Regions from separate parts of the Homo sapiens genome. Here regions 1 and 2 are each linked to region 3. Evidence: fine-mapped expression QTL. A gene starts in region 3. Each other region holds a variant in brackets. All regions are shown on one strand. Distances are between the middles of the regions. Region 1 has its middle 27 kb from the start of LINC02673. Region 2 overlaps YME1L1 (YME1 like 1 ATPase). Region 3 holds the start of ACBD5 (acyl-CoA binding domain containing 5).

The links.
Region 1: its variant is fine-mapped to the expression of ACBD5 in esophagus mucosa (GTEx, PIP 0.99).
Region 2: its variant is fine-mapped to the expression of ACBD5 in whole blood (TOPMed, PIP 0.98).

Annotation. Positions count from the first base shown.
Region 1 is chr10:27,314,732-27,318,976 of GRCh38, forward strand. It overlaps the pseudogene ODAD2P1 and the pseudogene RNU6-666P. Among named protein-coding and RNA genes, the nearest start is that of LINC02673, 27 kb to the right of the region's middle. The variant T/TG (reference allele first, on the strand shown) is at 2,497.
Region 2 is chr10:27,149,858-27,154,102 of GRCh38, forward strand. All of the region lies in intron 1 of YME1L1 (YME1 like 1 ATPase), which reads right to left. Among named protein-coding and RNA genes, the nearest start is that of YME1L1, 2.4 kb to the right of the region's middle. The variant T/C (reference allele first, on the strand shown) is at 2,101.
Region 3 is chr10:27,238,998-27,243,242 of GRCh38, forward strand. It overlaps ACBD5 (acyl-CoA binding domain containing 5), which reads right to left and starts at 1,800. Exons shown (of 13, transcript NM_145698.5): 1 at 1,677-1,800; 2 at 1,322-1,487. The coding sequence starts at 1,691. RefSeq lists enhancers at 852-1,354, 1,312-1,571, 3,022-3,271, 3,402-3,511 and a silencer at 1,692-1,801.

The sequences.
Region 1 (4,245 bases), 76 kb after region 3:
AGTCAGGTTGAAATAATTACAGGAAGAAATTAGAGATCCTTTTTATTTTGTTACCACATCTATATCCCTGGACCTTTATAATCTGTATAGCACCATTTTGTAGGTAGTGGAAGGTCTCATCTTATTCTGGAAGATCCCATGTCATCTTTCTCAAGTTACAGTGGGTTCCAACTTGTGCTTGTCCCCTCAAGTGATTCTTTTTTTCCTAAAAGTAAAAATCTCCCATGCTACCTGCATCTCTACCTCAAGTTTTTAAAATATTTTCAAATTCTGCATCACCATGAAGCCATTCAATAGACTTCACAAAACCCCAGGTAAGTTGGTTAGATTTAACAGAGCTAAGCCTCATCCATCACTGATCAGTCTTCAGGTATAAAAGTAGGGATTCATGCTGGCATCAGCAGTACATATAGTAAAATTGAAACAACTTTGAGAAGATCAGCATGGCCCCTGCACGAGGATGACACACAGATCTGTGAAGTGTTGTATATTTCTTGCAGTTTCCAAAAGGGCATGTGACTACTTTCTAACTAGCTCCAAGGAAATGGTGTGAGTCAAAGCAAAATGGTTGTCACCCAGTATTGCAGTTGTGATTTTCATACAAGAAATATTGATGCAAGGTGATATATGAAATGAGATGTGGTAACACATAGGATCTTGTGTGCAATATGCTGTTAGTGCATCTCAGAAATGAGGAAATACCAACTTGCATCTTCCTTGTGGAACTTACAAAAAATAAAGGTAGCGTTTTTTCTTCCACAGCAGCTGGAAATGAGCATAGTGACTAAGCATCATTCTAACAAAGATTTGTTGATTCAGAGTTTCAGGAGGTAGATAAAGAGTAGTAATAGTCCAAGCCAGATGCTGACATCTATTAGTTTTCTGCCCTTGGTGTGATTGATGAGCTCAGTAATAGAGGCTAATCAGGTTATCCAATTTAATGAATTCATATATTTATAAATAAATTTCATTACAAATTATAAAATAGCTTAGATGCCTTGAATTACAAGCCACAAAGAATAGAACATCTAATAACCAAAAGTAGGAGTTAATAACAGAAAAGTGCAACTTTTGAACATTATAACCTACGAAGAAACTTTTTTTTGAAATTTATTTATGTTTTGTAGAGACAGGGTATCCCTATGTTGCCCAGGCTGGTCTTGAATTTCTGGGCTCAAGTTGTCATCCTGTCTCAGCATCCTAAAGTGCTTGCATCACAGGCATGAGCCACTGCACCAGGCCAAAACATTGGATTTTATTGGGAATTTTAAAATAGTTTCAGCAATAAGGTTGAACAACAAGGTATTTCATTGCTTCACTATTTATTCGAGCATTTTAAAAACATTATCATGTTGAATCTTTATAATAAGCTAGTGAAATCAGGCTCTAAAATTCTCATTTTTAGAAGACGTTGAGCCTAACAAGCAACTTGTTCAAGAAAAAATACCTGTTGGTTACCACACTAGGACTTATTCTGAATTAAGGACATTTTCCATTATGCCAAGCTAACTCTAGTTAATTTACGGAATTATGCTGACCTCAATTCATGAGTATTTCATCTTACTTTCTTTCTTCTTTTATTAGCAGCTTAATAAGTTCCTAGAGCTTACAAACTTAAAGTCTCTGGAATAAGTAATGTTCTGCTGTTAGCTCTGATATTGTCTGAAATAGTCTAAGAACTTAATAAATTTGGAAAATTTGGTAAATGTTAAAATAGTAATTTTATTTATTACATTTTTATACATAGCATTCATCAATGTCTTTTGGAATATAAACAAAAGATATCTAAAAATCCTCAAAATAGCAATCCAGGTAAGACTTCTGATAGTAAACTACTCTTGGTGGTGCTACCATAAGGTTATGGAAATGTTGATCATACAATAGCAATTAAAAAAGCAATGTGGAAATAGGATGTGTTTACATATATACATATGTGTGTGTGTACATATATATATATAGCTTTGATTCAATTTTTTAGTTTATAATTCAGAATTAGTTATAGGTAGTTTATAATCTCAGAAAATATTATCTGAAAAAATATGTTTTTAATTATGGTCCCTAAAATTTTATATAATACTTTTGTATAAATAAGTAAAACAATTTTTTTTTTTTTTTTTTTTTTTTGAGACGGAGTCTCGCTCTGTCACCCAGCCTGGAGTGCAGTGGTGCAATCTCTACTCACTGCAGTCTCCGCCTCCCAGGTTCAAGCTATTCTCCTGCCTCAGCCTCCCGAGTAGCTGGGATTACAGGCACCTGCCACCATGCCCAGCTAATTTTTTTGTACTTTTGGTAAGACGGGGTTTCACCATGTGGGCCAGGCTGGTCTCAAACCCCTGACCTCAGGTGATCTGCCTGCCTTGGCCTCCCAAAATGCTGGGATTACAGAGATAAGTTAGGTTCTTAAGAGATGTGTATTAAAAGCTCCTACTTTAATTATATTTTTATCCAAGTTTTTTTTTTAATTGTTTAAAATGTACACATTTTACTGTGTATTAT[T/TG]GTACATACAGATTTTTTACTTATATTTTCTTCAAAAAATAGCTTTTATCTTAACAATGATTCTATTTATTCTGATTTATACTTATAACTATTGATTTCAATTCACCTGACATTAATATTGCCATTCGTGCTTTCTTTTTGTTGAGTTTGCTTTGTTCTCACCTTTTTTTTACCTTTATCTACCTATCTTTATTTGTTTTAAAGTGTTCTTCTTATAAAAACAAACATGGTATAAACATATTCTGATTAATGTGATAGTTTCCGTCCTAATAGAAGTACGCAGACTGATCACATTTATTATAACAATTGATATATGTGATTTATTCCTTCTGTCTTACATTGTGCTTCATCTTTATTTTACTGTTGGCCTCCCCTAGACTTTCTTATCTTTTTCTGATTTGAAATCCACTCTTTTCCCCGATACCCCACACTGCTGTTGATTTGGAAACTTGACTGAAAAACAATTCTACAATTCCATTCATAGTTATCTTCTTTATTTGCCACTTTCATGGGAAAACAAGTTTTTCGATTTTTTCCTCACTAAGATTCTATTTGTCCATTGCTTTCCCCTTCATCCCAATAGATGAGACCTTTAGAATGTTTTTATGTTTTGCATCTAGTTACGTAGCTGCTAGATTTTGCTGAGATAGTTTAATATTTTGAACTTCAGATTATTAGTTTTTCCCTTGAAGTGTATCTGTTCTGTTTAAAGTGTCTTTGCCTTTGACACTCCCCCATTTCTCTGCTCACCACCACCCTTTTTTCATGGTTCCATCTTCAAGTCCCTGTCTTGATTATTTTCTTAAGTGTTTTGCCCAAACAGGATGGATAGGTGATATATTCTCTGAATCTTTGCATAACTGTTAGTACAGTTTTTATTTTGCTCCAACAGTTGATTGATATTCATTTGCATGTAACATATCATCATGCCTCTTTATCTACCGCCTGAGCCATATTCTCCAGGCTAGCTTTTATCCGTAGTAAGCTGATATTTTAATCTCTGTCTATCTACTGCGTGGTCTCTTATTCTGAATTTCGACTGAAGAGAAAAAGGAACATGGTTGCTTTTTTTTTAATGCAGCAATAAAGAATAAATAGAAAAATTTGCAATGTTTATAATTGCTTAAATTGAAATATCATATGTATATATATGAATAAGCAAGAATAATATTCTGAGTACATTAGTATTATATTGAACGTTAAATACTGATTGATCCAACTACTAGTCATTGAGCTCCTGGAAGCCAGGGACAACATTTTAAACATTTCTGTGTCTCTAATGTATTTGCTGGAAGACAAAATATATTTCTCTTCCTACCCTTCCTCTCCCCCAACTCCTCCAATCTAAAATTGACCCTGTTTTCAGTACAACAAGATTCCAGATGGAAGTCAAGGTATATAGTGATTTTATTAACCCCGGTAGCAAAAATATTGTTTCAATAAAGATAAAAATTTTACATTCCATCTATGGTTTCCTTAATTTAAAAATATATTGGTAATACAGTTATATAGTTCAAAATCAAAGTGATATAAAATGATATTCATTAAGCCATCTTGCTCCCACCCTTGTCTCTATCAGGTTTGTACCTGTTTTTCCCTGCAGAGTTCATGCATTCAACAAATATTTATTAAATATTTATTGAGTACTTAGGTGCTCATTGTGTGCCAGACACTGTTCTAAGTGCTAAGGGCACAGCAATGGAAACAACAACAACAACAAAAAAAAACCAGGAAAAATAATTGTGGCCG
Region 2 (4,245 bases), 89 kb before region 3:
GAGGTCAGGAGTTCGAGACCAGCCTGGCCAACGTGGTGAAATCCCATCGCCACTAAAAATACAAAAAAATTGGCCAGGAATGGTGTTGGGCGCCTGTAATCCCAGATACTTGGGAGGCAGAGGCAGGAGAATCACTCGAACCTGGGAGGCGGAGGTTGCAGTGAGCCAAGATCATGCCATTGCATTCCAGCCTGGGTGACAAGAGCAAAACTCCATCTCAAAATAAATAAATAAATAAAAATGAAAACAAAAAAAACACTTGAGCCCAGGAAGTTGAAGCTGCAGTGAGCTATCATGCCACCACACTCCAGCCTGAATGACATGGCAAGACCCTGTCTCAAGAAAAAAAAAAATTTACTTAATAAATATTTGTTGAGTAAATGAATACATTAAATGGGTTCTTATTATATACCAGGTTTAGTACTACAGGCTTTACTTCTATCATCCCATTTAATCCTCAAACAGCTATAATAATGAGTAACAATTATACTTCTTGTTACAGTTCTGTCAGAGACTTTTGAACCAGAGTGACTCCATCTGGAGTAGGGGCAAAATGAGGGTAAATGAGGCTGAGACCTACTGGGTTGCATTCCCAGGAGGTTAGGCATTCTAAGTTACAGGATGAGATAGGGTGTGGGCACAAGATACAGGTCATAAAGACCGTGATGATAAAACAGGTTGTAGTAAGGAAGCCAGCCAAATCCCACCAAAACTAAGATGGAGAGGAGAGTGACTTCTGCTAGTCCTCACTGCTCATTATGTGCTAATTATAATGCATTAGCATGCTAAAAGACACTCCCACCAGACCATGACAGTTTAAAAATGCCATGGCAACATCAAGAAGTTACCCTATGTGGTCTAAAAAGGGGAGGAACCTTAGGGGTCCCCCTTTCCCTGAAAACTTATGAATAATCACACATTGTTTAGCATAAAATCAAGAAATAACTAACTGTAGGTATCCTTCGTGGACAAGCCCAAGCAGCTCCTCTGCCTATGGAGTACCCCATTCTTTACTCCTTTACCTTCTTAATAAACTTGCTTTCACTTTATAGACTCTCTCGCCTTTTTTTTTTTTTTTTTTTTTTTGAGATGGAATCTCGCTTTGTCGCCCAGACTGGAGTGCAGTGATGCAATCTCGGCTCACTGCAACCACCGCCTCCTGGGTTCGAGTGATTCTCCTGCCTCAGCCTCCCGAGTAGCTGGGACTACAGGCGCAGGCCACCACACCCAGCTATTTTTTTGTATTTTTAGTAGAGATGGAGTTTCACCATGTTAGCCAGGATCTTGATCTCCTGACCTCGTGATCCGCTCGCCTCTGCCTCCCAAAGTGCTGGGATTACATGCGTGAGTCCCCGCGCCTGGCGACTCTCTCGAATTCTTGTGCGAGATCCAACAACCCTCTCTTGGGGTCTGGATCAGGGCCCACTTCCAGTAAAAATTCCAGTGTTTATCTCCTTCAAAACTCAAGTTTGAGTTGAGAACAATGGCAAACTTAGTTGCCACTGTAATCCTGTTAAGAGGTGGGACCTTTAAGAGGCATTTAGTTCAGGAGGGCTCTGCCCTCATCAATGGACTAACGCCATTATTGTGGGTACAGACCATTTAATAGATGAAGACAACAAAGATTTAGAATCTGACTCAAAATTCCAGACTTCTCATCCCATGGATATTGATACACAAATAAATTCGTGACATACTAAGGAATAAAGCTGACCGTAAAACTACCTTAAGTATGCATACCCGTGGGGGCGCGGTGGCTCACGCCTGTAATCCCAGCACTCTGGGAGGCCGAGGCGGACGGATCACAAGGTCAGGGGATGGAGACCATCCTGGCTAACACGGTGAAACCCCATCTCTACTAAAAATACAAAAAATTAGCCGGGCGTGGTGGCGGGCGCCTGTGGTCCCAGCTACTTGGGAGGCTGAGGCAGGAGAATGGCGTGAACCTGGGAGGCGGAGCTTGCAGTGAGCGGAGATCGCGCCACTGCACTCCAGCCTGGGCGACAGAGCGAGACTCCATCTTAAAAAAAAAAAAAAATTAAAATAAAAAAAAGTATGCATACCCGTGTTTGTTTATAGAAAAAAATGTGTGAAAGAATT[T/C]AGTCTAAGATACGTATCCCTGAGTAATGAGATTATGGGCGATCTTATTTATACTTTCAGCATTTTTAGCAAAAAAACATGGATTTGTTTTAAGGCTAGTCAAGTGAAGCAATGTATCATTTTTAGAGTCAGAAAGAAACAGTAAGTTCCTTACAGCCTGGGGGCAGTAAAAAGAAAAAAAAATAAACAGTAACTTCTTTTGAAACTTTAAAAATAATCAAATCATTTCAAGATACATATTTTCTACCTCTTTGAAAAGATTTATTTGAATTAGTTATATCTCTTTTATTTGAATTAGTTATATCTCTTTTCTTTCACAAAAGGATTTAGAGTTGAGCTCTTCTCAATGAAAAAGTTCATTTTCTGTGTCTTCCTTTTTACCATTTAATTTCAAGTGTATTCAACCAATTAAGCAACAAGGAATTCCAAATGTGTTACCATCCTTCAAAGCAAGAAATGCCTGAGAGTCCTCACTATATTTGAGCCCTGTTAAGACTGCCTAGGGTACATAAAAATCCCTTTATCATCTCTACCAACATCACATACTACTAACTGTCCATTCAGTTGATGGTAAATTCTCCTAAAATCAGGCCTCTTGATGTGAACTAAGGCAAAGAGTTGAGTTTCAAAAACTTCAATACCATATTCAATAGGCCATGTCAGACTTCTTTTTCAAACAATTACTAGGACTTCTCCAGACACTGTCATCTTGGTAAATAGCACCTTCAATGCATTCATCTGATCAAACCCAGAAACACCTCTCCCCATCATCTCTCTGATCTCTCATGCAATTCCACTTTCTTCAAAATATATCTCATTCTCTTCTTTCCATAACCACTGCAACAGCTTTAATTGGGGGGTGGGTGGGTATTTTTAGCTGATAACATCTTCCACTCTTGCCCTCTCCTATTCTCCATATAGCAAAAGCCAGTCATCTCTTAAAAATGAAAATCTAATCATGTTTTAAAACTTTCAATGGTTCCCAATACACTTAAAATGAAATCAGCCATAATATATCCTTTACTCCCTGTATGATCTGCCTCAAGTCTTTTCTCCAACCTCTTCTGTCACTACCCCCTTTAACTACTATGTTCTAGCCACACTAGCCTTATTTTTGTTCCTTCAACCTGCTAAACCCTTTCCTAACTCAGGACCTCCAGGTATTTTTCTGTATGCCTGTGATACCTGTTCACTCTTCACCTTGCTAAGTCCTACTCATATTTACTTCATATCAATATTAAGAGAAGATTCCACATTTGCTTTGCTCACCTGGTACATAACTGATGCCCAATAACAAGCAGCTGCTTCAGTTTGTTAGCCAGTACTAGCACAAAAAATTAAAAATTCTTAAAATGAGGGGGAGTAAAAGTTACACAAAGGAACACAATCATATGCTTAAATCAAGAACCTAAGAGTGTCGATTTTCTTAAAAATTATGTTTTAAAAAAACTCAATGTTTTAAAAACTATTTCTTTGCAAAACTGTAGGAACTCTCAAAAAATCTATTAAAATGTTACCATCAAAAAAAGAGACTGGAATGAAGCAAGAATAAAACATTGTCACAAGTGATTGCCCAAGAGCGTAATGAAAACCCTTGAAATCATTTTTCTCTTCACTACCTTTTGTTTTACAAAACGATGAGGATGAGGCTGAATCAAAATTTTAACTGCAAACAGTTTACGACTCGGAAATACACATTTTAGTTACTTCTGGTCAAAATGAGAAAAAAACTTGCATGGCTGGCCATCCGAAATATTATACCATGTTTGGGTTAAATTTAAATTCCATTTAAAAGGAAATAAAGAGCAGGGGATAGGGGCTGTGAACACTAAAGCCACTGGAAAGTCGGAAAAAAGGGAACATTACCTGCTCCCTTTAATGTATGGTACAGACATTTTCCCACCCCAGAACGCCGGACACTGAACAATGCCGGACGGATTCTCTAGCAGAAATTCCACGCAATCAGTTCGATAAGCCAGGGTCTCTCTCTATCACTGAGCTCACATCCCGCCTCTGCCCTCAACAGCTTCATCGTCAGCACTGAAGTCTCCGGCCCACTCTCAGCGTCGTCCCCTGATCCACTCCTCAATCCTGGGATTCGCATTGAGTACATCACTTCATTTCTAGAGTCCCTTCTGAGAAATC
Region 3 (4,245 bases):
TACCAGCCTGACCAACATGGAGAAACCCCGTCTCTACTAAAAATACAAAATTAGCCGGGCATGGTGACGCACGGGTGTAATCCCAGCTGCTGGGTAAGCTGAGGCAGAAGAATCGCTTGAACCTGGGAGGTGGGGGTTGAGGTGAGCTGAGATTGTACCATTGCACTTCAGCCTGGGCAACAAGAGCGGAACTCCATCTCTAAAGAAATAAATATGTTTATTGTGAAATATAATTCATATAATGTAGAAAGATATGAATTGAAAAGTACGTCTTGCTTCTAAGACTCTGCATTTAGAACAGAGAAAAATATTTAATGGCCAAAAACTTCACATTGGTCTATGACATAAAATTACAAATTCAAAAAGCTCTGCAAATCGTGAACAGGGTTAATATGAAGAAAAACCACATCTACTAGTCAAATTGCTGAAAACCGAAGATAGAAAAGAAATCTAAAAAGCAGCCAGAGAAATAGCACATTAAATACAAGAAGGAGATCAGCCACTGGAATGACTTTTTTCTCACCAGCTGCAAAGAAGGTCCAATATGAGTATAAAAAAGAACATTATACAATGGAATAGCAAATAAAAAGGTAGAAAATATATATTTATTAAAATAGAAATTACTTCACAATTGACTATAGTTATTCTTTCTTTTCTGTCCCTTCATATCAAAAGTTTTCAAAACGCTTAAGCTGGTAGACCCTATGAGTGTGTGGCATTAGGCATCCCCAGCCTAGATTTTTGTTTGTTTGTTTGTTTGTTTGTTTGAGATGGAGTCTGGCTCTGTCGCCCAGGCTGGAGTGCAGTGGCACGATATCGGGTCACTGCAACCTCTGCCTCCCGGGTTCAAGCAATTTCCCTGTCTCAGCCTCCCGAGTAGCTGGGACTACAGGCGCACGCCACGAAGCCTGGCTAATTTTCGTATTTTTTAGTAGAGACGGGGTTTCACCATATTGGTCAGGCTGGTCTTGAACTCCTGACCTCAGGTGATCCATCCACCTCGGCCTCCCAAAGTGTTGGGATTACAGGCTTGAGCCACCGCGCCCGGCCCGGATTTATTTTTTAACACACCCAAATCCGCAGTCATTAAGTGACAAGACTTTTGTTTTCAACAATATGAAGTACTTAAAATCTGGATATTAGATTTTTCTCCGGTTTGGAAGATCAAAAGGTAATTAATTCATATTCAATAGCTCCCCTTCCACTACATGGCTCCTACACAGAAAAAAAGGCTAAATAAACAACACTAGAACCAGAAAGTGAAAGGGGGCTTTGGGGCTCTCTGCAGGAGGCGTCTACAGCCGGGGCCCAGCGCACGTACCATTCTTCGGCAAACTCTGGATCACCTTCACGGCCGCCTCAAACCTAGTCTCGTGCACGGATCTCGTGTCCGCCATCTCCAGCTGCCAGTGTTGGCCCCGGTCCCAAGGTCTGTCGGCGGGAATCAGGCAGCAGCAGCACCAGCTTTCCCAAGAGCCTGCATGAAACTGGAACATGGAGCGCAGCCGCGGATCAACATGCCCCAAAAGGAGGAGGCCCGGGAGCGAAGCGGGTCAGTTCCCCTTTGCCCTGCCCTATCCAGGCCACACAGATCGAAGCGGCCCGGCTCCTTCCTCCTCCCCCGGGGCGTGACTAAGGCCACGAATCCGGCCCGCGACGACAGCAAAACAACTCACCGAGAGGAAGAGCATGTCTAGCAGAAGACAGAGGGGGTCCGGGCATCGGTGGCCGCGGAGCCGCTCTCCCACCCTGGGGACCCTGGCGGAGCAGCCACACCCCCCATTCCGCCGGAGTCCGTCTGTCAGTCCGTGCCCTCCCCACAGCCCCGCCCCAGAGTCACCGGAGGACCCACTGGCGCCGCCGCCGCCGCAGCAGCAGTGCAGCAAACCCCACCCACCCGACCCGCCGCCGCGGCAAGGACGCGCGCGGTCCGTCTGTCCCCAGAGGAGGGTCCGGGAAGCGGGGAAAGGGGGCCACAGTCCCGGCTTGGTGCGGGGAGCACACTGTGCGCGCTTTTGTTCAGAAGGGGGAAACCGAGGCCGGACCGATGTGTCCGCTCTGGCAGCCGGGTGGACGAAGTGCGCGCTGGGGATGCGCGGTTGGGTTCTGCACCTGGGCCCAAAGCTGCACGCGACGGCACCGCTGGGCAACAAAAATGACTCTGCGGTCCCCAGCGCCTGCACTCTCCTAAGTTAAGGTTTGAGGAAGTTAAATGGGGCCTAAGCAAAGGGCTTTAAGTCGGGACAGGTTCTGTGAGAAACTCCAGTTCTGCCATTTAAATTATGTGACCTAGGGCAAGTCACTTAGCCTTTCCAGTGGCAATCGTGACACCCACTCTAAAGGGTAGATGGAGAAAAGCATTGGGGACCTTGGATGGAGGTGCTCAGCAGTCCCTGGCCCGCAGGTCTTCGACAGTTTTCGCTGCCCTGAGCCAAGAACGTCCGAGGAGCAGCCGAAGGAGAGAGGAGGTCGCCGGCTCCTAAACTGGGCTGGGACGGAGGGCAACTTCCCCTACACTACCCTTTCCACCCAGCCCCAGGGAGCCAGGCACCTCCAGCGGGATTTAATAGGAGACTGGGCATGGGGACGGCCGGGCACAGTGGCTCACGCCTGTAATCTCGATACTTTGAGAGGTCGAGTGGGGAGGATTGCTTGAGGCCAGGAGTTCAAGACGAGCCTGGCAACATGGCGATACCCTGGCTCTATTTAAGAAACCAATAATTAAAAAAAAAAATAAAAATAGGATACTGGGCGTAGAGGGCGGGGCCAATGAGGAGTCTTTACGGGTCGTCAACCCTAGAAAGGGGGTGCCCTGGGCCTTCAACTTACTAGCGCAACCCCCTGCGTCCTTAGGCATTTGGGAAGTGCCCCAGGCCGAACGTTGGTGGTGGGACTGACTAGGTTGTGGGGGGTGGAGTCCTGTAGCCCGGAAATCCCAAAGTCTCCCGGATGGAAGAGTCGTTTTTGTCAGTTAGGGGGATGGGTTAGGAGGGTTACTAGGAAAAATCTAGGCGCAGATCGTAAGTTACTCTTCCCTCTGAGCCGCGGCGCCGGCATTTACCTTGGTATTGCCGGACAAGGCCTGTCCGGTAATGTCCCCGACGCCCGCCCCTCGCCCTGCCCCGCGGGCTTATGGGAAATGTAGTCCGCCGTTCCGCCGCGCTTCCGGACACGTCCCAGCGGCGTCCGGCGTTCCTGCTAGCTCTTCCGGTTAGGCGTCTCTGTCCCGCGGACGCCGCAGCCGTGCGGCGGAATCCCTCCTTCCTAGCCGGTTGCATTTCGTGCCTCTTTGAAATGCCACATTCGCTTCCAGCTTAAGTGTCTTGAGATTGTCGCGGTGTCTGCAGCTGCGGCTTCTCCAGCGCCCTCCGGAGGCTTTGCTTCGGGTTTGTCTAATACAACACAGGGGGAAATCATTTGATCGTGGACGTTTCACGTTTCTTTGTCTTCAAAAATGAAGAGGACATTTTGTAAAATTATCACACAAAGATGAGAAATAGATTAGAGAACCAACTTTGGGTTGTAAATACTAAAGAATTCCAAATGGTAATGTATGAATGGCTAAAAAGCAGTGACACTTATCTAACGCGTTATTACTTTATTCCATAAAAGGAACAAACCTAAATTGAAGGAATATTCATTTCCCCCTTATTGGATTTAATAGAACCCTTTTCATTTTTAATGGGAAATAATCAATGTGACCTATAGATGTTTCAATTTTTTTTTTAAATAAATAAACCTCTTTAGGGTGATTTCTGGTGGGATTGAGGAAAATGAACGGGTTTAGGGTTATCTTGGCCCAAAGTCTATCTTGGATTTGCCGCTAGTTCACTGTGTGACTGCGTCAGGAAACAAGCTCTGAAAAATTTCGTTTTCTCCAATAAAGTATGTGAAATTACCTAGCATGTAGTAGCCTTCAAGATTTTTGTATTTCCTCTTTTTTGATACTTAGCTGAGCAATAAATATTGGACAGCAGCACCAGGGAAGAATCTGAATCAGGCAGGGAGGATGAGCACTGCCCAGGAGGAAAAAGCGAAAAGGAAAGTGTGCTGAGCAGGTGCCTTGGCGGGGGAGAGAGGAAAAGGAAATGACTTCACACACACACACACACACACGCGCACACACACACAGAGAGAATGAAGTTTCTTTCTGTCTCTTAAGTGATGTGTGAGTGGATGGACAGATTGCCCTCAGCTTTAAGGGCAGTTCAGGATGATCTGTCTTAAGATCGATGCTCTGTGGAA